Homo sapiens: one gene and its partners. The protein of the gene in region 1 purifies or fractionates together with the protein of each later gene. This does not show direct contact. Each region holds a gene or a part of one and is shown on either strand. Other genes may lie near its edges.

What was found.
Region 2: the proteins of PWWP3A (region 1) and RMDN1 purify together in Homo sapiens (affinity purification with mass spectrometry; one large-scale study listed by BioGRID and IntAct). This does not show direct contact.
Region 3: the proteins of PWWP3A (region 1) and PPFIBP1 purify together in Homo sapiens (affinity purification with mass spectrometry; one large-scale study listed by BioGRID and IntAct). This does not show direct contact.
Region 4: the proteins of PWWP3A (region 1) and SMPD3 purify together in Homo sapiens (affinity purification with mass spectrometry; one large-scale study listed by BioGRID and IntAct). This does not show direct contact.

What each region holds. Positions count from the first base shown.
Region 1 is NC_000019.10:1,352,780-1,358,849, forward strand, and holds the start of PWWP3A (PWWP domain-containing DNA repair factor 3A), read left to right. Parts: upstream 1-2,179; 5' UTR 2,180-2,356; intron 2,357-3,544; 5' UTR 3,545-3,613; coding exon 3,614-3,670; intron 3,671-4,229; coding exon 4,230-4,315; intron 4,316-4,639; exon of another isoform or gene 4,640-5,196; intron 5,197-5,614; coding exon 5,615-5,685; intron 5,686-5,808; coding exon of another isoform or gene 5,809-5,831; exon of another isoform or gene 5,832-5,872; coding exon of another isoform or gene 5,873-5,925; exon of another isoform or gene 5,926-6,070. UniProt on the Homo sapiens protein: Involved in the DNA damage response pathway by contributing to the maintenance of chromatin architecture.
Region 2 is NC_000008.11:86,476,228-86,481,860, reverse strand, and holds part of RMDN1 (regulator of microtubule dynamics protein 1), read left to right. Parts: intron 1-1,528; coding exon 1,529-1,584; intron 1,585-2,850; coding exon 2,851-2,938; intron 2,939-4,536; coding exon 4,537-4,567; intron 4,568-5,633.
Region 3 is NC_000012.12:27,525,879-27,531,511, forward strand, and holds part of PPFIBP1 (liprin-beta-1), read left to right. Parts: intron 1-5,633. UniProt on the Homo sapiens protein: May regulate the disassembly of focal adhesions. Did not bind receptor-like tyrosine phosphatases type 2A.
Region 4 is NC_000016.10:68,360,782-68,366,414, reverse strand, and holds part of SMPD3 (sphingomyelin phosphodiesterase 3), read left to right. Parts: intron 1-1,322; coding exon 1,323-1,398; intron 1,399-1,508; coding exon 1,509-1,664; intron 1,665-2,548; coding exon 2,549-2,638; intron 2,639-2,855; coding exon 2,856-2,919; intron 2,920-4,655; coding exon 4,656-4,812; intron 4,813-5,107; coding exon 5,108-5,209; 3' UTR 5,210-5,633. UniProt on the Homo sapiens protein: Catalyzes the hydrolysis of sphingomyelin to form ceramide and phosphocholine. Ceramide mediates numerous cellular functions, such as apoptosis and growth arrest, and is capable of regulating these 2 cellular events independently.

The DNA of each region.
Region 1 (6,070 bases):
TGAGGCAGAGGCTTGGATCTGGCACAGCACCCCTTCTGCTGTATTCCCTGGGCTGAAGCAGGTCACACGCCAGCCCAGGATTTTTTCTTTTTTCTTTTTGAGACAGAGTCAGTCTTGCTCTGTCACCCACATTGGAGTACACTGACGCGATCTCAGCTCACTGCAACCTCCGCCTCCTGGGTTCAAGAGATTTTCTTGCCTCAGCCTCCCAAATAGCTGGGATTACAGGTGCACACTACCACGCTCAGCCAATTTTTGTATTTTTAGTAGCGATGGGGGTTTCTCTATATTGGCCAGGCTGGTCTCGAACTCCTGACCTCAGGCGATATGTCTGCCTTGACCTCCCAAAGTGCTGGGATTACAGGCCTGAGCCACCGCCAGCTCAGATTTAACGTGAGAGGATATCAGAGACATAGTTCTTGCCAACCACCCACAGACCACCACCCCCATTTTATAGACAAACTGAGACGGCTGAGCAAGGTGGATCCTACCTGTGATCCCAGCACTTTGGGGAGCCGAGGTGGGAGGATCACTTGAGCCCAAAAGGTCGAAACCAGCCTGGCCAGCATAGCAAGACCCTCTCTCTACAAAAAATAAAAATCTTAGCCAGCCATGGTGGTGCGCACTGTGGTCCCAGCTACTCCGGAGGCTAAGGTGGAAGGATCATTTGAGCCTGGGAGGTTGAGGCTGCAGTGAGCTATGACTGGGCCGCTGCACTCCAGCCTGGGCCACAGAGCCAAACTTCGACTCAAAAATGTAAATAAAAATAAAAAACAAGTGAAAGGTGAACATTCTCAACTTGATAAAGGAAAAAAAATCAGTCGCTGAGGTTGCTGGGATCGACCGAAGACACAAACCTTCTATTCCCGCAAATGTGAGAAGGAAAAAGAAGTTAGAGCCGGCTTTGCTGTCGCCCCTTCCCCTTGAAGAGTCGGGGCCAGTGCGTGACGAATGCTGCTGTAAGTCTTTTAATTTTTTCCTTTTTTGAGACGAAGTCCCACTCTGTTGCCCAGGCTGGAGTGCAGTGGCGCGATCTCCCCTTACTGCAAGTTCCGCCTCCCGGGTTCAAGCGATTCTCCTGCCTCAGCCTCCTGAATAGTTGGGATTACAGGCATCGCCACCACGCCCGGCTAATTTTTCTATTTGTAGTAAAGACGGGGTTTCACCATGTTGGCAATGCTGGTCTCGATCTCCTGACCTCATGTGATCTGCCCGCCTCGGCCTCCTGCTGGGATTACAGGAGTGAGCCTGTATCTTTTTTATAGAGATGGGGTCTCGCCATGTTGCCCAGGCTGGTCTCCAATCCTTGGGCTTAAAGGATCTGCCAATTCGGCCTCCTTTGCTTTTAAAGAACTGTGGGGGCTGGCGAGGTGGCTCAGGCCTGTAATCCCAATACTTTGGGAGGCCGAGGCAGGCCGATCACCTGAGGTCAGGAGCTTGAGAGCAGCCTGATCAACATTTAGTATTCTCTACTAAAAATACAAAAATTAGCCGGGTGGGGTGGCGCGCACCTGTAATCCCAGCAGGAGGAGGCTGCAGTGAGCTGAGCTCGCGCCACTGCACTCCAGCCTGGGTGACAGAGCGAGACTCCGTCTGAAAAAAAATCAAAAACCGCTCAGGGAAAGGCCTGACACTGATGGAGCGACCGCTCCGGGGCTCCCGCCACCCGCGGCTGTTTCCGGTGCCCCCCGGGGTCTTGGGACCCTCCCAAGGTGGGTCCTGCTCTAGTTCAGAAGCTTATGACGCCTTTGCGGGGATGCCTGGCTTTGGGATCGGTTGGGATCTGCTGGAATTGGGTCCGTGGCGCGCAGCTCCCGGGCTGGGAGGTGCCGTAGGACCTGGAAGATTCTCGAAAGTTCTGGAAGGTTCTCTCAGGGATCGCCGCGGGCGGGGGAGCCTGTTTTCCCACCGAGACCCGCGAGGGCGGTGTCCGGGGTCTGACTGCAGGACAAAGGGCCGGGAGCGCGGGAGGGCGGCGCCCGGGAGCGGCCACACATGCCCCGCCAACCGGTCTCCTCAGGCAGCACTCCCGGGAAAAAGGGGTAGACGCGCGGCGGAAGGGGCGGGGCCGGCGCGCGGCCGTGGACGCCGGAGAGGGCGAGGCCGGCGCTCCTTGGGAGCGCGCGCGTCCCATTGGGCAGCGGGCGGAAGGGGGCGGAGCTTGGCGCCGCCGCGAGGCAAGCCCCGCCCCCGGCCCCGCGGGGAGCGGCGGCGGCGGCGGCGGCGGCGGTGGCGGAGGCGGTGAGCGCGGGCGGCGCGGACGGCAGCGGTTGGCGGGCGGGTCCTCCGCTGTTGCGGCCGCTGCGGCCTCCTTGCCCGGGCTTGGGGCGCCGCGCTGGGGAAAGCCGGGGGCCCGGTGAGCCCGCGGGATGCGTCCCCTCGGTTCCGCCGGGCGGGGCTGAGGCGAGGAGGCCGGGCCTGGGGGGAGGGGGGGCCCCGGCCTAGAGACTCCTCCGGGAGCGCCCGGTCCCTACCGCCGTGGGTCCCCCACTCTGCCCGGACCCCCTTTTCCGCCCCTGGCGCCGTGGGCCCCTCACTTTGCCTGGACTCCTTTTCCCGTCCCTGCCGCCCGGACCCCATCTCTTGCTTGGACCCGCTCCCCCATCCTTGCTGCCTGGACCCCTATCTCCTTCCCTGGATCCCCCTCACGTCTGCCGTGAACCCCATCTCTTGCCTGGACCCCCATCTGCTTCCCTGGATTCCCCACCCCCAACCGTGAAATCCCCCATCCCTGCCACCTGGACCCTCCGCTCCACCTCCTCCGTGAGCCCTCGTTCTTGCTCCCTGAGCCCCCCCGCTTCTGCTGTGACCCCCTTCTCTGTTGCCTGAATCCCCCGTTCCTGCAAGCCGCAACCCTTCCTCCGCCATGAAATCTTGTCCCTGCTGCCTGGACCCCTACTTCTGCTGCTGCTGTGATCCCCTCTCTTGCTGGAAACGCCACCCCTACCTCTGCTGGGAACCTCCTCTTCCCTGCTGCGGGGACGCCCCCCTCCGTTGTTGCTAAATTCCACCCCCACCCCCAAACCTCCTTTTCATTTCTGTCAACAGCCAAGCCAGTCCTTCCCATTGATGCTGTGAACGGTCTGCAGCTGTCCCCGTTCTTTCAGGGACATGGCAGCCAAAAGAGCAGTCGTTTTTCCGCTCTTATTTTTGTGTGTGTGCTGTGGTCAACTGTTAACTCCCCAAATTGGGGAGGGTTGTGAGCTTTGATTGTGTAAAATGCCTCTCCTGCCGAGGTCGGAGGCAGGTCTTCCGCACGGAGATGATTTATTCAGGAGCCTTTTAAAACTGATCTAGATAGAACCTTTGGGAGGGACTGTGCTGTATTTTATTTATGAAAAAATGCAGGCGCCTCCCTGGATACCGAGCCCCGTCGTTTCTGTTTGTCAGTCTGCTTTTTGGCATTGAGCATCTCAATGCAAGATTGTGGAATTAAACCATCTACTTGAGGCTAAGTCGAGCTAACCTTTGCCCCTGAGGGCTGTGTCTGCGTTAACATCGCCAGCAAACAGTTGTATAAACCACCGTGCAAATTTCGTTCCAGGACACATTGGCGTGAGACCTGGGAGTACGTTGTGCCAAATCATTGCCACTTGCCACATGAGTGTAAATGATGGCGGATGCCAAGTATGTCCTCTGCCGATGGGAAAAGCGATTATGGCCTGCGAAGGTGACAGCCATTATTCTGTAACTTCAGGACTTAGAAATGACTTTCGGGTGACAAGTAAAATCTTGATCAGGAGATACCTAGGATTTGCTTCAGTGAAATAATTGAGCCAGAACACGGTTGGCACTGATTCTCGTTCCCCATTTAATGGGGTTTTGGTCTAGTGCTTCCAAGGTTACACTTCCAGAAATGTCTTTTTTTTTTCACACTAAAAAAAAAAAAAGAATCAGCTGTAAAAAGGCATGTAAGGCTGTAACTCAAGGAAAGATCTGGCAAGCAGCCCTGTGATAGTAAATTATGGTCGTGTTCAGGGAATGCTTTCCAGCAATTCAGTAGACAGTGCTCAGCTGCAATGCAAAAGCCCAGGTCCTTGTCTTTGTCTGCCACTGGCCTCTCATGCCTCAGTTTCCCCATCTGTGAAACAATGGGGATTGGACCAAATATCTGAAATCCCATGGTTATAGGCCTTCAGGATTACCTGCTGCATTTGTGCTAAAGTTTGCCACTGTTTCTCACTGTCAGCTGTTGTAATAACAAGGATTTTCTTTTGTTTTAAATGTAGGTTTTGGCCCGAACCGCGACTTCAACAAAAAATAAGAGAAGAAAGGAATATTTTCTAGCTGTGCAAATCCTCTCTCTAGAGGAAAAGTTAAGTGTTGTGTTGTTTTAATACTGTTTTTTCCCGTGTAGATTTCTGATACTTCAATCCCCTACTCCCCCAAAACAGTTGAAGCCCAGCCCACTCTTAATGGGCTTATTCACCATTTGTGTAATTCATTAATGCTCATAATAACCTCATGAGAAAGCAACTAGTTTGATTTTATGTCAGTTTGGAAGCTGAAGATCCAAACGAGGCATTCTGTGAGATCTATGGAGAGATTGGTACAAACACTGAATACATGTAAATTATACTCAGGGTAGACCCTATTTGTGGTTAAAATAGGGATATTTCCTTTTTTTTTTTTTTTTTTGACTGTTTCTTAATCAGTGCCATGCCAGGAAAATAGGGATGTTTCCTTCCCAGAGATCTGTGTGTCTTTTTTCAGAAACGTCTGTGACAGGCCCATCAATTTTGAAATATTTGGTTTTTGAGCCTGTCACTCTAAACCAGCGTTTAACGTTCAAAAGGCAAATAACTGATGACCAGGCGGCACATTGTTCTGCTCCGTGAGTGTCTGGCACTGGGAAAGGTGTAGATTGTCTAGAATGACAGCAATTCCGACGCCCCAGTCAGTCCTGCGTGATTGTGGCGAGGGCGCGTCTGGCACCGGGAAGGTGTAGATCATCTAGAATGACGGCGATTCCGACGCCCCGGTCAGTCCTGCGTGATTGGCGAGGGTGCATCTGTCGTGAGAATTCCCAGTTCTGAAGAGAGCAAGGAGACTGATCCCGCGTAGTCCAAGGCATTGGCTCCCCTGTTGCTCTTCCTTGTGGAGCTCCCCCTGCCCCACTCCCTCCTGCCTGCATCTTCAGAGCTGCCTCTGAAGCTCGCTTGGTCCCTAGCTCACACTTTCCCTGCGGCTGGGAAGGTAATTGAATACTCGAGTTTAAAAGGAAAGCACATCCTTTTAAACCAAAACACACCTGCTGGGCTGTAAACAGCTTTTAGTGACATTACCATCTACTCTGAAAATCTAACAAAGGAGTGATTTGTGCAGTTGAAAGTAGGATTTGCTTCATAAAAGTCACAATTTGAATTCATTTTTGCTTTTAAATCCAGCCAACCTTTTCTGTCTTAAAAGGAAAAAAAAAAAAAAACCATTCACCAGGGTTCTTGCTGCCTGTAACCTCAGGCAGATGAATTCCTAGTTGGCTGTGACTTTTGGTTTAAGTGGAAGGTTGAGGAGGAAAATGAAAATAATTCTTTTGTTATCTAAAGGAAAACATGTTTGAAAATGTCTTGGCGGCGTTGGCTGGTGGTGTGTAACGTCGATTTTGTCTCTGCAGAATTAAGGTGAAAAGCACTGAAGTTGAGATCCTAGAGAAGTCTCAAATTGAAGCCATTGCTTCCTCGTTAGGTAAGAGCGTATTTTTAAGTGGCCACTAGGTTTTCATAAAATAAGAGGTCATTTGGGAGAATGTGAAGGCTCAGCTTTCTGGGTAAAAATTCACCCTGTTCACCATGTTTTTCTTCATACAAGGGAACGCGAATCCCCTGAGCTGAAGGAGAAGGAAAAATGGATCCGCTTTCTTAAACCTTTCCAGAATTTGCCCCTAGAACCACTCCTATTCTTGACGCCCAGAATGGTCAGTGGTGAGCATCAAGGTCATCTCGTACCCCCGTGGCCTCCAGTACACAAGACGAGGAAGGACTTTGCTGCCATAAGGGGGGAGGTCCTCCTTTTTCCTTTCCTCTTCCTATAGTAAGATTTGCTGTGGTACTGTCGCTGCCTGGCCAGTCTG
Region 2 (5,633 bases), on another chromosome or scaffold:
AAAAAAATACTGCTCCAACTAACACACTGTTTCCTGGAAATAAAGCCCTACTCTACAAAAAAAATGAAGATGGCTTGTGGGAAAAGATCTCTTCTCCAGGAAGCTAAAAAAATAGGAATTACCAAAGAAAGCAGAACCTTCTTGGCCTGACAGAGACCATTGGTGGGGCCAGCAAGAATCCAAATTTGGAACCTACATCCATTGGGTCTTAGGTCTTCTCCTTCCTTCCTCAGTGTTTTTCAAATGACTTTCAAAATAAAACCTTATTTTGGCAAAGGCAAAAAAAAAAAAAAAAAAAAAGGAAAATTAATTAAACCCTGATCCCCCCAGGCATCCATTGTGATGAATTAACTTCCTTCCTATGCATCTAGAATGGGACTACAGTATTTCTGTATCATTCTTAGGAAATAGAAAAAAATAGTTACTTACACAATTTTTTTGTAGGGCTTAATTTTTAGTGGAACTCCCAATTGAGAAAGGTTGCTTAGAGCATAAGTTGCATATAAACATGTTAAGATACTTATTTATTTTTTACCACAACCTTATGAGTTAAGTACATGACTTTTCCATAAAAGAGAAAAAACTCAGTTGTGGTAAGAATATAGATCTTGCAACCAGTTCAAGGTCATTAAGCTGTGACTTGAATCCTGGCAGTCTGGTTTCAGAGACCATGCTCTTAACCATTACAAATATTTGAAAATGTGTACCTCACACATTACTAAACTGAAAGCAAAAGTGTGGGTTTATAGAAAAGCATAAACTAGGAAATCTTAATTTTTTCAAAAAGAGTCCTTTTAATATGAACATTAATCTGTAAGATTTCTTTAGTTGTTTTCAACAAAATAATGGATAAAAGGAGGAACAGTTTCTTTATTCTGTAGTTTATATTCACATAGTAAATATAAATTAGGGAGATTCAACATATTTTACATTGCACATAATTATTCTATTAATATTCTATAAACTGTTTATTTTTCCTTTGGTAAGTACAGATGGGGAAGTTGAACAAAATCTGCATACAAGAAGACTTTCTAAAAATAGAAAAGACTTTCTAAAATCTGCATAGAAGAGACTTTCTAAAATTACATTTTTTCTAAAAAACTAAAATGCACTTTTCTTCTTTAGGAAAGAATGACTTTTATTCAGTATTCATCTACAGTTTGCCAAGAAAGTACTTCCTTATCCATTTTTCCTTTAATTTGGAAGAAACATTAAGAGCTATAGATTAATTTGCAAGATTAATTTGCAAAATTAATCCATTTATGTATTTCATGTTTTTTCTCATCTTGATAGACACTTACTATAAATGTCTGAACCATACAAAATAGTAACATTAGTATAAGTCATTAATAGTGTTTTGAAATGAATTTAATCAAAGAATCAGGAGGAAGAAAGTTGATATTATAATGGGAGAACTGAAACACACAGTTGCATTTTTTAAAAAATCATGGCTTCTTCAGCAAACACAGTAAAGCACTTATTGGTGTTTAGAAAACAAATATGATTTATTTTTCTCATTTCTTGTTAGAAAGCAATTGAACTGAACCCTAAAGATGCTACTTCAATTCACCTTATGGGTATTTGGTAAGAAAATTTCTTTAAATATTTCAGTAGTATTTAGTGTGATATTTTGTAGTATGTATAAATATCTTCTTTTGCATATATAAAAGATATTAAATATTTTAAAATATTATCTGACAGAGCTTAGAGTGCTAAATCCATTAACTAGCCCTTGTATATATATTGTTAGAACATACTAAATTTGATTATGACCATGTTAAACATTGTTATTCAGGTCATTTAGAAACATGTACAGACTGAAAAGACTATTCTTATTTACCATGCTAAATGAAATTAGATTAATGTAACTATAGTAAAACAGTAGAATGCCCCAAGAGGGTCTTTGTATCTTCAAAGTGTGTCAGATACAGTCTTGATTAATCTGAGGAACCATATAATCTGATTTTCAGTATCTTTCTATTTTTATGTGATCTTATGTCCACTGTAGATTATTATTTTGCTGGTATGAGGCTTTATCAAAGTGTTACGTACTTGATGGTTTAAGAGTCTGTTTTGAGATAGATGGGACACTCTTTTGAGTATAGCCTGCAGAGCTGAATATTTACTGCCATCTAAGAAGGGTACCAGTGTAAACTGTCCTGTATCAAACTCTTTTAAAAGAGAAATATATTCTTCAGGATAAAGGACATATTAAGCTAACACTCATTCACTGAGGATTAATGATAATTGAGGGGCAGTCACTAAGTCAGATGCTAGTAAGCAAACCCAAATGAAATAGCAATTTCTGCCTTAAGGACTTCAGACCCTAGTCAAAGATGCAACACTTTCTTTCCTACTTATTTCTGAAAGTTGTAAAGATCTTTGGAGGTTAATCATTTGCTTTGCTGCTTTAAAAATAGATTTAAGTTGTTGGTTGCTGTTATTTATACATTTGATGTTTAGCTTTGTCATTTTTCTTGTGTAAGGTTTAACTTCTCTGAGTTTTTCTTATAAGAAAAATAGGGGAAATTATCCTATCTCATATATAATTGTTACAAGGAATAAATGAGAGAATCAACCCACTACCTGGCACAATGCACTCAGTGGTAGATGTATATTATATTACTGTTATTAGTATGACTGCTTACTATTTATATTTAATCACAAAATACACCCCCCAGCTAAAGGATCACTATGTCAATCTCTGGATTACCTAGTAGATATCATGTAAAGCACAAGTTGTTTAAACATACAGTAGAAGATTCCTTTTATAGTATTAAGATGCTTAGTTAACTTTAAGAGAAAAGAAGGTACAATTTGAATGTATAAAATTGTTTTATTTCCCTGTAGGTGCTATACATTTGCCGAAATGCCTTGGTATCAAAGAAGAATTGCTAAAATGCTGTTTGCAACTCCTCCTAGTTCCACCTATGAGAAGGTAGTATGATGTCCTTTGTTAAGTTAGTACGGATTTCTTAACCACAGCGCCATTCTACCATGTGTTCACACATGTGGAGCTCTGATTCAGTGAGGGACTTGAGCAATTTCTAATGATCCAATTCAACTGTGTTATCACAAGGCTTAACACTTATTATCCTTGACTGGTGAGTGGTTTTCTTTTTCCCCGTTAGGTGAGTGGCTGGTAATTCTGGAATACTGTCATCTAAAATGGCTCGTGGCTAAAATCTACCTTCATTTTCTGTTTGAAATCTAAACTATATTGAAGTCATAAAATAGAACAAGAAATACAGCATCTGTTACCCAGCATGTTTTAGCTGTATTACACACAATAACAGAAAAGTAAAGCAGATGCTTAAGTTGATAAAAGAAGAACACTCATTATAACTTCTATTTTAAAAAGCATATGAAAGGTTCATATTCTCTCATATTTTCAAGGCCTTTTGCTTTTCTTGTTAAAAATAAGATTTGAGAGGAATTTCTGGTTAAACTTTGGGTTTACTCATCACAAGCTTTTCAGAGTAAGAAAACAGGCAATCGAAAAAGCTGTACTTGTATTATTTACATTATAACAAGGAGCTTTTTTTTCTTTCTGGGAAGCTATAGTGTAGAAATTGATGTAAAAAATACTTAGTTGTATTCTTTACACACAGTTGAGAAATATTATTAAAATAATGCACCAATATTTTATAATGGTATTATTAAAATAATGCCCATTTGCTGGACACGGTGGCTCATGCCTGTAATGCCAGCATTTTGGAAGGCCAAGGTTGGTGGATCAGTTGAGCCTGGGAGTTTGAGACCAGCCTGGGCAACGTGGCAAAACCTCTGCAAAAAAAATACAAAAATTAGCCAGGTGTGGTGGCCTGTGCCTGTAGTCCCAGTCACTCAGCTAAGCTGAGGGAGAAGGATCACTTGAGCCTGGGAGGTCAAGGCTGCAATAAACAGTGATTGCGCTACAGCATTCCAGCCTGGGCAACAGAGTGAGACCTGGTTCTTTTTTTTTTTTTTTAAGACAGGTCATTTTAAGGACAAAAAATATAGTCAGCTCTACTTTATCAAATTAGTTATGTTTCTAGAAATCAAATGTCATTAGAGAATGCATTACAAAAACAGTAGCTTAAGTAGGACAAAAAGAGTTTCAGACTTAACATTGTATGTAGGAATTTCAATAATAATGGACTCTTAAAAATTCACTAGTACAACGAATAAATTCAGCTTTTGATTATATTTTGTTTTTACTAAAAATCACTAGTTATGATTTAAGAGAACTGTCAAAATAGCTGAGTTACACGTGATAATGTTCTTTCCTTTCTGCACATGATGTTAGTTTGGTACAAGTTCTAAACAGCAACCAAGTTATTACCAGAAGTAGTCCATATATTGTAATCTTGATGATTGAAGTGTTACGTTCACTTTGGGTGTTAACTCTCACTGTTGAAGAAGTGACCATTATTTTAAGATGATTTACTTCCTGACTTAAATATAATATAGCAGTAGATCTTTGAGACAATGCTTTTTTAATATTGTCTTCTTTAATCTTTTTTATTATGTTTGGGCTCTTTGTGTTTTTGACAGGCCTTAGGCTACTTTCACAGGGCAGAACAAGGTAAGGTATTTTTGATTACACATATTAATATAGTTAAAATTGTATGAATGCTGAATATATACTATAATAGCAATGTCTAAAGCAGTTGTTTATTCTGTTATACTTATTTTTGTGCTAGATACTGTAAAACAATTTTTAAAGTCTTTATTCAGTAAAGATCACCTGAATGAGAAATAGGCTGCTATTGAACTTAGAGCTGCAGTTCTGGAATGTCTATCATTTGATGTAATTCTGCTTCCTTTGTGAGAGCAGTCTCTGACATGGTAATTGTCTTATTCAAGACTGCACATATTGGCCAGATGTGGTGGCTAACACTTGTAATCCCAGCACTTTGGAAGGCCAAGGCAGAAGGATCACTTGAACCCAGGAGTTTGAGACCAGCCTGGGCAACATAGCGAGACCTCATCTCTACCAAAAAATAAAAATAAAAATTAGCCAGGTGTGGTAGCACACACCTGTAGTCCCAGCTACTCAGGAGGCTGAGGCAGGAAGGTCACTTGAGCCCAGGAGTTCCAGGCTACAATGAGCTGTGATTGCACCACTGCACTACAGCCTGGGCCACAGAGTGAGACTTGTCTGAAAAAAACAAAAAAAGATTATGCATCTCATTAGAGGCATTTAAATGGGAATTCTGCTATTCAGCCAGGCTAGTTCTATTGCAGATATTGTGAAAAAGAGTTTCGGGTTATGTTTGTTTTGAAAAAATGACTAGTCCTATGAAACTGCCACCAGCCCATCCTAAATTTATCCTTTTTAATATTCATACACCAAGTGGGGGAGATAAGAGACATAAGCATATGATACCAAATAGACCATAAAAACCATTGAAATATATTCTATAAAACTTAATCAGGAGAAGACATACCATGTTTATTAAATTTGAGATCCCACACATAATGGACTTGTTCATTTCATGATAACAGTTATCTTCTACAGAATTTTATCTGAATGTTTTATCTCTGTAATTCATCAATTCTGATTTATTCATTATTACCTTCACTGATACCCTCTCTTGATCATACTGTTTCACATATCATGAATATGAATCTAGGGATGACTTTTTTTA
Region 3 (5,633 bases), on another chromosome or scaffold:
AGTTCCTGAAAAAATTAAATAGAGTGGATAAAATAGCAGGCTTTTTGAGAAAGGAAAATTCGCTTTATTGGAAAGACAACATTTTAATTTTGGTTTGTATTTTGGCTTAAGACACAGAAATTGCAAATGGCTCTGCAATAATGGTGAACAAGTCTTTTCTATTTATGTTCTATGGGGAGTACATAAAACATACTGTATTTTCCAGTGTACTTTTTCAGTAGGATAGAGCTGTGGAGTGGAGTTCCTGTGGGCTAATGTGAACTCACGGTAGTGTTCCTTGGCTGATAGTGTTCCAACTGCATTTGTAATACCAAAAGATGGGGCTGCAAAAGCCAGACGGTTCAGTAAAGAAGAGTATCTTTAGGATGTTATCCTTATGTGCCAAATTCAGATTTACACTTTCTTTCCAAGAAACTAGTCCTAGTTTAGGGACTTGAATATACCAAAACTCTAAATTTGATTCACAGTTTGAATAATAGCAGTAATTTTACATACTTAATTTAAACCAATATTTCTCTTTCTCAGTCCATGTTTATGAGGCAGATATGGTGTAGGAAAACACGGAATACTTAAAAGATGTTTGAGTTATTGAGAAAGGTAGGATCAGTTTTTGGTTAAATTCCTGTGACCAACAACTGTCATATTTCCAAGAGCAACTTTAAAAATTAAGGTCGGCCAGGCTTGGTGGCTCACACCTGTAATCCAAGCACTTTAGGAGGCTGAGGCACGCAGATCACCTGAGGTCAGGAGTTGGAGACCAGCCTGGCTAACATGGTGAAACCCCATTTCTACTAAAAATACAAAAAAATTGCCGGGTGTGGTGGTGGGCACCTGTAATCTCAGCTACTTGGGAGGCTGAGGCAGGAGAATCGCTTGAACCCAGGAGGCGGAGGTTGCAGTGAGCTGAGATCTCGTTATTGCACTCCAGCCTGGGCGACTAGAGCAAAACTCCATCTCAAAAATAAATAAATAAAATAAAAATTAAGGTCATCTGGCCTTAATGGATAAATGTTGATTTGAAATCCAGGACACACTGAAGTTCCAGATCAATAGTGCCTAATTTCAAGGGCATCACTGACATTTTTTTGGGAACAAGTTCACCGAGGGACAGTTAATTAACTGTTTATGTAGTCTTTTTGTAGCTCCCTGTTCCACCGTGAGATAAATCAGAACAAGGTCATTTTTCCCCTCAGTTACTGACTAGCTGACTTCTTTTAAAACCTTTCCTATTCATAAAATATTTGTATAAGTAAATTTAGATTATGTTGATAATTTGTTACATTAAAATTAACTTTTCGTTTATATCCCAAACCAGCATAATTTTCAAACTGTTAACTGAAAGAAGACCTCATTCAGCACTCTGTCTTTTCTTTTTTCTTTTTTTTTTTGAGACAGGGTCTCGCTCTGCCGCCCTGGATGGAGTGCAGTGGTGCAGTCTCGGCTCACTGTAGCCTCTGCCTCCCAGGTTCAAATGATCCTCCCACCTCAGCCTTCCCTGGGACTACAGTCATGCACCAACATGCCCGGTTAATTTTTGTATTTTTAGTAGAGGCGGGTTCTCACCATGTTGCTCAGGCTGGTCTTGAACTCCTGGGCTCAAGCAGTCGACCCACCTTGACCTCCCAAAGTGCTAGGATTACATGAGTGAGCCCTGGGTGCCCAGCCTGTCTTTTCAAAGATGTTATTACGTGTCTCTGGCCTAGTTTGAATTACCTTTTCAAAACGATGAAGGAGTGAATTAATGAATGCATATTCATTCATGTTTGGGTCTGTGTCTTGATTCTTTATTAAAGAAACGTCGCTTCAAGGCGAAAACATAGGCAAGAAATGTTGCGTAATGACGTTTTTATTTTCAGAGATTTCCTTAGAAAGTCATATTAGCTCCAAAATTAAGAAAAAAAAAAATCACAGTTGAGCAGCCAGTTGTGAAATCTTTCAGGGAGCCATAATCATAACTATCATGATTATTTTGTTATTTTTAACCGTGGCCAAACAGATGGATTTAAATATGCGAGTCAAAGCTGTTAGGGTTACTGTCTCATTTTGATGCAGGGTATTCTTTGCTTTTTTGTTTGTTTGTTTGTTTTTGAGACAGAGTCGCTCTCTGTTGCCCGGGCTGGAGTGCAGTGGCGTGATCTTGCCTCGCTGCAACCTCCACTTCCCGGGTTCAAATGATTCTCATGCCTCAGGGTCCCAGTTAGCTAGGATTACAGGTGTATACCACAACGCCTGGCTAATTTTTGTATTTTTAGTAGAGACGGGGTTTCACCATGTTAGCCAGGCTGGTCTCGAACTCCTGACCTCAGGTGATCTGTCTGCCTCAGCCTCCCAAAGTGCTGGGATTATAGGAGTGAGCCACCACGCCTGGTTATGCAGGGTATTCTTTGTGAATAAAGGGAACAAAATGTCTTCTGGCCAGCATTTTCTGTTCAACCAAAGGTGGATAACTTCACAATTAAATCAGTTATCAAACTGTCCAAAAACTGCTCTGGGCTCTTGTAATTCAGTGCATCAGTAGTGTGTTATGTCAGTTATTTTTCAAATTTATTGCAGTGCACGTCAGAACCTTCTTCCTAGTAAAAAACAAAACAAAACCCTACAGCTTTTGTCATATATGTCACTGCCGCAAAAATTGATGCTGCGTTAAATGGAGCTCATAAATTTAAAACTAAACTGAATTATTCCACCCTACAAAATACATAGAATCTTTCTTTTACACCCTTCATTTTAGATATAATAATTACTGATGCTCAATTGGTGTTCAGTGATAATGTTTCCAGAAGCCAAGTGGTGAGCATTTTTTTTCCACTTCAAAAAAAAACCTAACATACCAGACAACTGGATTTTAGATAAAAGAAATATGGGTTCTTCTAGGAGTTTTAAGTTTACGCACTTTTTAGGCAGTTTGGGGGAGGAGGAGAGAGAACCTGAGGTAAATACGTACCAGTCTAAACCCACTGGAGAGTGTCTATTTCTGAAAGGTGGGTTTGGACTCTGAGTGGTCCAAGTGGATGTGTTGTCACAGTTTGTGAGTGCTCTTTGGTTATGCTTCTCCCTGGAACTTGATGGGACTCACATTTTGACTGGCCCACACACACATCCTTGTTTTTGTTGGCAAGTGTAATGAGTTCAGAATAGAAAGATCATGTAGTGGTTTTATGTACAGGGGTGCACCTAACAATGTCCATGCCTGAAGGAATTGTATAAACTCAAATTGCACTGAGTATCCGTCATTCTGGCCAAGGGTCATGTCTTAAATATGGATCATGTAGGAGGAAGATCAAGTACCACCATCACGTTTGGGGCTGGCCCTAGATTTTATGGACACCCTCTGGACTCCACAATAGGCCTGGATATTTTCACCTCTCCTTTAATTTAGGGAAATTATTCATTTGACATGAAAAGACAAGTTCAGAAGAGTAGGTATGCTCATTCTTAGTGTGTCTTTGTTAAGAGGTGAAACTCCATTTCACCTGGTGAAAGAGGTACTAAGGCTTTTTTCAGTGGCAAGTCTATTCCTAAAGAAGTGGCCAGGCTGGACGCGATGGCTCATGCCTGTAATCCCAGCACTTTGGGAGGCTGAGGTGGATGGATCACTTGGGGTCAGGAGTTCGAGACCAGCCTGGCCAACATGGCAAAACCCCGTCTCTACTAAAAATACAAAAATTGGCCGAATGTGGTGGCGCATGCCTGTAGTCCCAGCTACTCAGGAGGCTGAGGCAGGAGAATTGCTTGAAGCCGGGAGGCGGAGGTTACAGTGAGCTGAGATCACGCCACTGCACTCCAGCCTGGGCAACAGAGCAAGACTCTGTCTAAAATAATAATAATAGTAAGTTGCCAAATTTTAATTTTTCCTTTTAGCAATAATAGCTGAACTCTTAAGAAGTGGCCAGATTCTTCAGGCCAGCAAGGTAGTTTTGGGGAAGAACTAGGTAGGCCCATTGGGAAGAGTGTGGACTCTTTTATGGTATGCAGTAATACTGTACCATATCACTAAATGTACCTGTGTTTTCTTGTATTTCCGTGCCTAGGATCAAGCTCACTGATGTCCTTTTGCTGGCACTTTGTTATCCTTCTCTTCATCCATAGTACTCTACACAAATATTATCTTACTACCACAGAATTGCAAAAGTTTTTCATGAGGAAAGTTTATTGTATTTACTTTATTTAGAAAAAATGAAAACAAGGTTGAAACTCTGTGGTCTACTTTTTTCATCTAGTGACTTGACAGGGCGGCTGCTATTGCATAAAGAATGCCTTTGCAACCGTTATCTTTTTCTAAAGATGCTGCCTCTTATAACAACACAGTATAGAATTTTCTTTTGTTTGCATTGGAATTTGAATACATCTACTTTTTCTTGTGAATGATGGAAGAGTCGAATGAACCTGTGGGTTCTCGAAATTAACTCTGGGAAGTGAGAGGGTGGAAGGGAAACAGTGACGACTCACAGGAGACACACTGGTTGAACCTGTGATCTTGCCAGGGCCATTTGTGTGAAGTCACCTGAATCTCGGTGTTTTTCCTCTGGATCAGCTGCCTGGATGGTTTTGTCAAACTTTCAGATCCTTCCATCCTCCACCCCCATCAATGTGTGACTTTGCATAACTGAGAAAGCTACTAAACACAGAATTAAGTTTCTTTTATTGTTTTTCTCTACTAAGGGAATTTGATTCTCTAGGATGACTTGCACTTCATGTGGGAAAGACACAGCTGGATGCCCAACTGATATCCATTCCCCCCTCCTTTTCTGTAACTGAACCCATTTTGTTTAATTCACCACTATGTCCAGTTAAGTGCTAGATTTCCCAGAATCCCTTGCAGCTGGGAGGTGGTTCAGTGACAGTAGTCCTGGCTGATGAGATGTAAATAGCTGGATGCCCCGTTCCCCAAAGCTCTTAAAAGGGGAAGCCTCTGTGAGCTTGCCTGTTAAGCCTTTTGCTCTTTGTACTTCTTCCCTGGAGAAAGTAAGCAGGCCATCGCGTGACCAAAGACAAGATGCTTGAGGGTTAAGGATGAGTGGGTGGAAGGTTAGAAGGAGGCTGAGAAGCTGATAGCATTCTGCAACTGCTCTACTGGACCCATTTCTTGACTCTGTGAGAAAAATAAAATCTCTACTTGGTTAAACCACAGAACTTGGGTCAGTTACTTGCAGCCAAATGTGATCTTAACTGAGTCTAGATGTCTAAAAATCATAGTTCATCTTTTCTTTAAAAATAAAAACGTGTTATTTTGTACGAGAAAAACAGGACTTTGGAGCCATGCAGATCCTCAACTTGAATCCTGGCTTTGCTATTTATTACAGTCTAATATTGGCAAGTAACTTAACCTCTCTGGGTCTCAGCTTTCTCATCTATAAAATGGTAGCTCTGATATATGTGCCATAGCATTTTTTGAAGGATTAGAAATAATTAGAAATTATTATTATTTTTTTTTGAGACAGTCTCGTGCTGTCACCCAGGCTGGAGTGCAGTGTTGCAATCTCGGCTCACTGCAACCTCCACCTCCTGGGTTCAAGCGATTCTCCAGCCTCAGCCTCCCAGGGAGCTGGGATTGCAGGTCCCCACCAGCATGAGCAGCTAATTTTTTTTTTTTTTTGTATTTTTAGTAGAGACAGGGTTTCACCATCGTGGCC
Region 4 (5,633 bases), on another chromosome or scaffold:
CCAGACGTTCGTACCCCCAGGTGCTGGGGAAGGAAGGCTGTGCATTAGGGCTGGGAAGGGGATGAAGAGCTGTAGAAAGCCAGGGGCACCTGCTGCTGAGGACGTCCAGATGGAGGAGATAATACCAGCCTGACCGACTGCAGCAGTGAAGGAAGGACGGAGCCTGCCGAGGCTGTTGGAGCAGATGGGCTGTGACGTTTGGGCTGCTGTGAGCTCCACAGATGTGGGGCACCCACCCTGCGGCCCTCTGCCCTCAGCCAACAACTGGGAGAGGCAGTGTGTCCTGCCCAGCCACCTCCCTGGAGTGCTTTTTGGGTCTGGGGTCTCCTCATCTTGGGAAACTCAGTCTGGAATGGATTTGCATGGCTTGGGGAGGGTACAGAGGCACAGGAGGGAAGGAATCCCAGGGGCAGGGGATGAGGAGCTGGTAAGCGGCCTCTCTGTGCAGGGCATCTCTGTGGCCATCCCTCACCTCTCCTGGGCTGAGCACTGACAAGGGCTCCATCTTGCCCCCACCTGGGGTAGGGCAGTTATGAATTGCCTGCAGGGTACAGTGGAGATGCTAATTTGTATTAAGCCAGCCTTTGGGATCCTGCCAGGGTCACCTGCTCCGTCTTGGGTAAAGGAGGTAAGCAGGAGGTCGGGGCAGAGGGGAGACCTGAAGAGGATGCTGCCACAGTGGGCTCAGGATGGAGCCAGGGGTGTGCAGGGGCCAGCCTAGGACACAGGTCAGGGAGCTCTCATCCAAGACGGGTGACAACGGGACCACGGCCTATAAAGCAGATGACTCACCATGCAGCCAGAAGGCGACGAGGCCAGGAGGGGCAGGGTCTGGGCCTCTTGCTGTGTGGGGTGGGCTCTGAGGCCACGCCATGGCACAGGGGCAACCCCCTGAGATTTCAGGGGGAGAAAGCACCAGGGTGTGACCAGGTCTAGGGTGTAACTGAGGGAGGGAGGAAAGAGCCACAGACAGGACTGGACAAGGAACTGAGAGCCGTGGCCACGCTGGTCACTGGGAGATGGCAGGGCCTGGGCCTCCGGGGAGCCTTGCTGCGGTTCGGCACTTCCCCCATGCTTTGCACAGATGGCCGCCAGCACTCCCCACGCCACAGGCCAATAGTTTCTTTCAGCACCCGCCTCTGGCCCAGATCCGTAAGTCCCTAGAAGCAGGACACATCCTGTCCCTACTCGGACCCCAGAATCCAGCCAGGAGCCAGGCTTGTGAGGGTCTGACCTCATGGGTGGGTGGGCACTGCCAGTGTCCTGTGCTCTCAGGGCCACAGTGACTGGCAGGTGGCAGCACTGACCCCCTCCTCCCCCAGGTGCAGGTGGGAAGCACACCTCAGGACCAAAGAATCGTCGGGTACATCGCCTGCACACACCTGCATGCCCCGCAAGGTAGGGTTGCCGCCCACCTGTGTTTTTTCTAGGCATGGGATCAGTGCCTGGGGCCTAGCTGGGGTCTGGGGCGAACTTCATCATCCAGTCTCTGTACTTCTGCCCTGCAGAGGACAGCGCCATCCGGTGTGGGCAGCTGGACCTGCTTCAGGACTGGCTGGCTGATTTCCGAAAATCTACCTCCTCGTCCAGCGCAGCCAACCCCGAGGAGCTGGTGGCATTTGACGTCGTCTGTGGAGATTTCAACTTTGATAACTGCTCCTCTGGTGAGGCCGGGCTCCTCCCCACTCAGGTCTCCAGCTCTGGGGAGGCTGTGGGCTCAGTCACAGCTAGACAGACTTCGTTAGGCAGCTCAAAGAATTCCTGCTCCTCGAGAGCATGTGGGCGGGGTATTTAGCAAGACTGATTTCTCTGCCCCCTAGAAATCCTAGAACAGGAAGAGCCCACGCTCTGCCTAGAAAGCTGGAGACAGAGATGCCCTAAAAACGAACCTCTGACAAGGAAGGCTGGGGGCCTCTGAAGCAGACAAAGGACGAGTCCACTAGTAACACCCATCAACGGGGCGCCGCGCTCTTGCTTCGAGCCAGCTGCCATTCTATCGCTGTTTCACTTAAGTGTCTTAACAACCCTGAGAGGGAAGCATTGCATGTCTCCACGTGGTGTGGTGGAGGAAGCTGAGACTCAGAGAGGCTGGAGAACCAGCCCAAGGTCACATAGCCAGGCAGTGATTGCACTGGGATCTGAACCCTGGGAATTGCACCTTAAACCATTAGGGTGAAAGACTACAAGCTCGTCATCAGTGAAACAGCAAACACTTGCTGTAAATAACTGATCTGTGGATCCGATGACCACATGGACCTTGTGGGGACCTTCCTTCCTCTGTCCGAGGACCGTGGTCACTGTCACTGTCCTCAGAGGGAATGCTGAAGATCAGGGCGTGTGCTGGGGGAGGTGTTCTCAAGGACACAGAAAAGCAGCGACAAATGAAGCACGGGGCACCTGAATGGGACTGAGATCCCACCCAGGGGCAGTGGCCTAAGGGATGGGGGCCTGGCAGCACATGGGGAGTAACTGATGGGAAGCAGGGGCACAGGCCGTGTGGGACAGCAAAGCCCCCTGGTGCCTCAGCGTTTCCTCCCTCCCCGCACAGACGACAAGCTGGAGCAGCAACACTCCCTGTTCACCCACTACAGGGACCCCTGCCGCCTGGGGCCTGGTGAGGAGAAGCCGTGGGCCATCGGTGAGCTGGGGCTGGGGGAGGAGGATGGGAGCTGGGCTCCCCACAGACTTCCCTCAAAGATCACCAGGACCTACCCCACAAGACCCCACTGCTGGGGAAGGGCCCCATTCAGCTGCCCCTGGCTAGCAGAAGCCCGTGTCCACCCACAGAGGCCACCCCCTAGAGGCTGCCTGGGCCCTGCCTGCAGCGACCACTGTCACCCCCTCGTCCCCCCCAGGTACTCTGCTGGACACGAACGGCCTGTACGATGAGGATGTGTGCACCCCCGACAACCTGCAGAAGTAAGCACTGCGCTCCCAGGCCAGGGACGAGGCACACCCTGACTAAGGTGGAGACAGGGACTGGGCAGGACCCACATGGGAGAGCTCAGCTCGGGCTCATGAGGGCTTTTATTTGGCAGAAACCTGTCCCTCATCTCACCTTTGAGAGCTTTTGAGAGCTGGGAGCTGGGCCAGGCAGGTAGACCTCACGCCCTCACGCCCAGGGGTACTGGCCTTGCTAAATCTCTAGGGGTATTTCCCAAACCTGTTTTCAGGAGCTAGCCCTGCCCCGAGCCCCTGCCTGCTGGGTACAGGAAAGGGCCTGGAATTTCCCCCGGGCCAGGCCACAGGTCGACCCCCATGAAAGAGCTGCTGGGTACGGCGCCTGCTGAAGGCAGCCTGGCAGCTTGCAGCACCAATCAGGCAAATACAGACACCAGCTGCAATAACACAGCCGACCATTTTCAAAGTAGAGACAGTTCCATCCCAGCCAAAATTCATTCTTGAGCCCAGTAAGATGTCCATAAAGAACACATCTGAGAGGCCAACAGCAGAACCAATTTATAATTCACAGCCCGAGACTGCAGTCACAGCGATGGTTCCTTGCAGCTAATTTGAGCCAATTAATTAGATTATAGACTAAATTTGAAACATCATCCTATGCTGAGAAAATTCTTTTTATGAGATGATGATTTAAAAATGACTACCAGTAGCTCTCAGATCATTGATGCTGGAATTAATTATCAAGGGCAAAGGACAGTGATGGATTCCATTTCTGAGCTGTAACAATGTCCTGAATGTCATTAGTGTATTTATCTTAAGGCTGATGAAAACCTTGTGGAAGCCCATGTTTGCAGGCCCTGCCTCGCCGGGTGCCCCTTTTGCATCCGTCCAGGCACTCACAGACCTGGCGGCCTTTGCAGGGTCTCTCACCACTGCACTTGCCATCCCAGGCCCTGGCCCCAGCCTGCCCTCTGCAATGGGGGCTCCCAGGAGGGGGTCCTAAGCCTCTGGCCCAGTGGTGCTGAGGCCCCAGGGGACAGGCTGGCAGGAAGCAGACGGGCATACTGCTTGTCTCAGGGCAACAGTGCCAGAAAGGGATTCCAGATGTCACATCCCCCTGCTCCAGCGCCCTGCCCTCCCTGTGGATCCCCTAGCACCATCATGGGTTTCCTCACTCAGAAGCGGGATGACAGCCTGTTCCCTGAAGCGTCTTGGGGCCCACAGCAACCATTCTTGTTTCAGAGGAGGAAACAGAGGCTTGGAGGCTTGGTAACATAAGCAGAGTCACACAGCCACGTAGGGACAGCCCCATTTGAGACTCCTCAGAGGTGCTCTCCTGGCTCCCTCAGCTCCTGTCAACCTGGGAACAGTCACAAGGGTCCCCGAGACTCATGGCAAAGACCAAGCTCCTCAAAACAGGCCCCTGTTGGCTCAGGGCAGAAGCCCATTCTGGGGAACGGGTGGGATCAGTTCTGTCCGAGTTCAGAAAGGGAAAGTGAGTGCTGGCCAGGCTGGGGCGGACAGAACACTTCGACGGGCTCCGGAGCCCAGATTCAGCCAGGAACCCACAGGCAACTCGGCCTACCCCCAGCTGAGGCCCTTTTTGGACCCGCAGGGGAGAGATCTTAAACCCAGCGCTTTGGTCCCACCCACCCGCTCCCACACTGGGAGGAGACCATGGCTCCACACACAGCCCCTGCCAGGCCCACAGGGGCGGGCATGGGGGCCCACCTGCCTCCTGCATGTGTGGACAGGGTCCTGGAGAGTGAGGAGGGCCGCAGGGAGTACCTGGCGTTTCCCACCAGCAAGAGCTCGGGCCAGAAGGGGCGGAAGGAGCTGCTGAAGGGCAACGGCCGGCGCATCGACTACATGCTGCATGCAGAGGAGGGGCTGTGCCCAGACTGGAAGGCCGTGAGTCAGGAGGGCCCAGCAGCCAGGGCCATGCAAAGAGAGAGCAGGGCCCGGGCCCTGCAGCTCTCGACAGCCGCTCCCTGAAACCCCACGCCCCAGGCCACTCTTACAATGATACCCATCACTCCCTCAGACCCTTAGGGCCCCAGGTCCTCCAGGCCCCATCCCTCTGACTGCAGGAAGGTCCCAGCCCACCCCAGCCCCGGGGCCTCACTTTGGGGATCCCCAGGCCGCTCCCTGCAAGATGCCCTTGGAATCTGACCAGGCTGTTTCTCCCCTCTCCCACTCACCCCAGGAGGTGGAAGAATTCAGTTTTATCACCCAGCTGTCCGGCCTGACGGACCACCTGCCAGTAGCCATGCGACTGATGGTGTCTTCGGGGGAGGAGGAGGCATAGACCGTCCGGAGCAGCGGGGCCTCTGCCAGCCCTTGCAGCTGCAGCCCATCCCTGGGCCATGTCCCCTCCATCGAGTGCCCGGTGCTTGGGGGAGGAGGGCAGGGACAGGGAGGGAGCCACAGTCAGTGCCCGGGAACCTGGAAGCTGCGCTGCTCTGCGCCTCTGGGCCTCACTGTGGACAGAGGAGTCAGGCCCGCCCCAGGAGCCTCCAGCTGCCTAACCAGTGCCATTCTTTCACAACACGATTTTCTACAAATCTACAGCACAACCGAGTTTGTAACCCGTGGGTTAGTATGAGGACCGGGTTCGTGTACTCTCTGTATCTCCTCTTAAGCTTCGTCCAGGGTTCTTTATTTTTGTCTGCTGCCAATGTCGTCTCGCATGCCTGCACCCTCGCATGCACGCTGCCCGCATGCCACGTGCC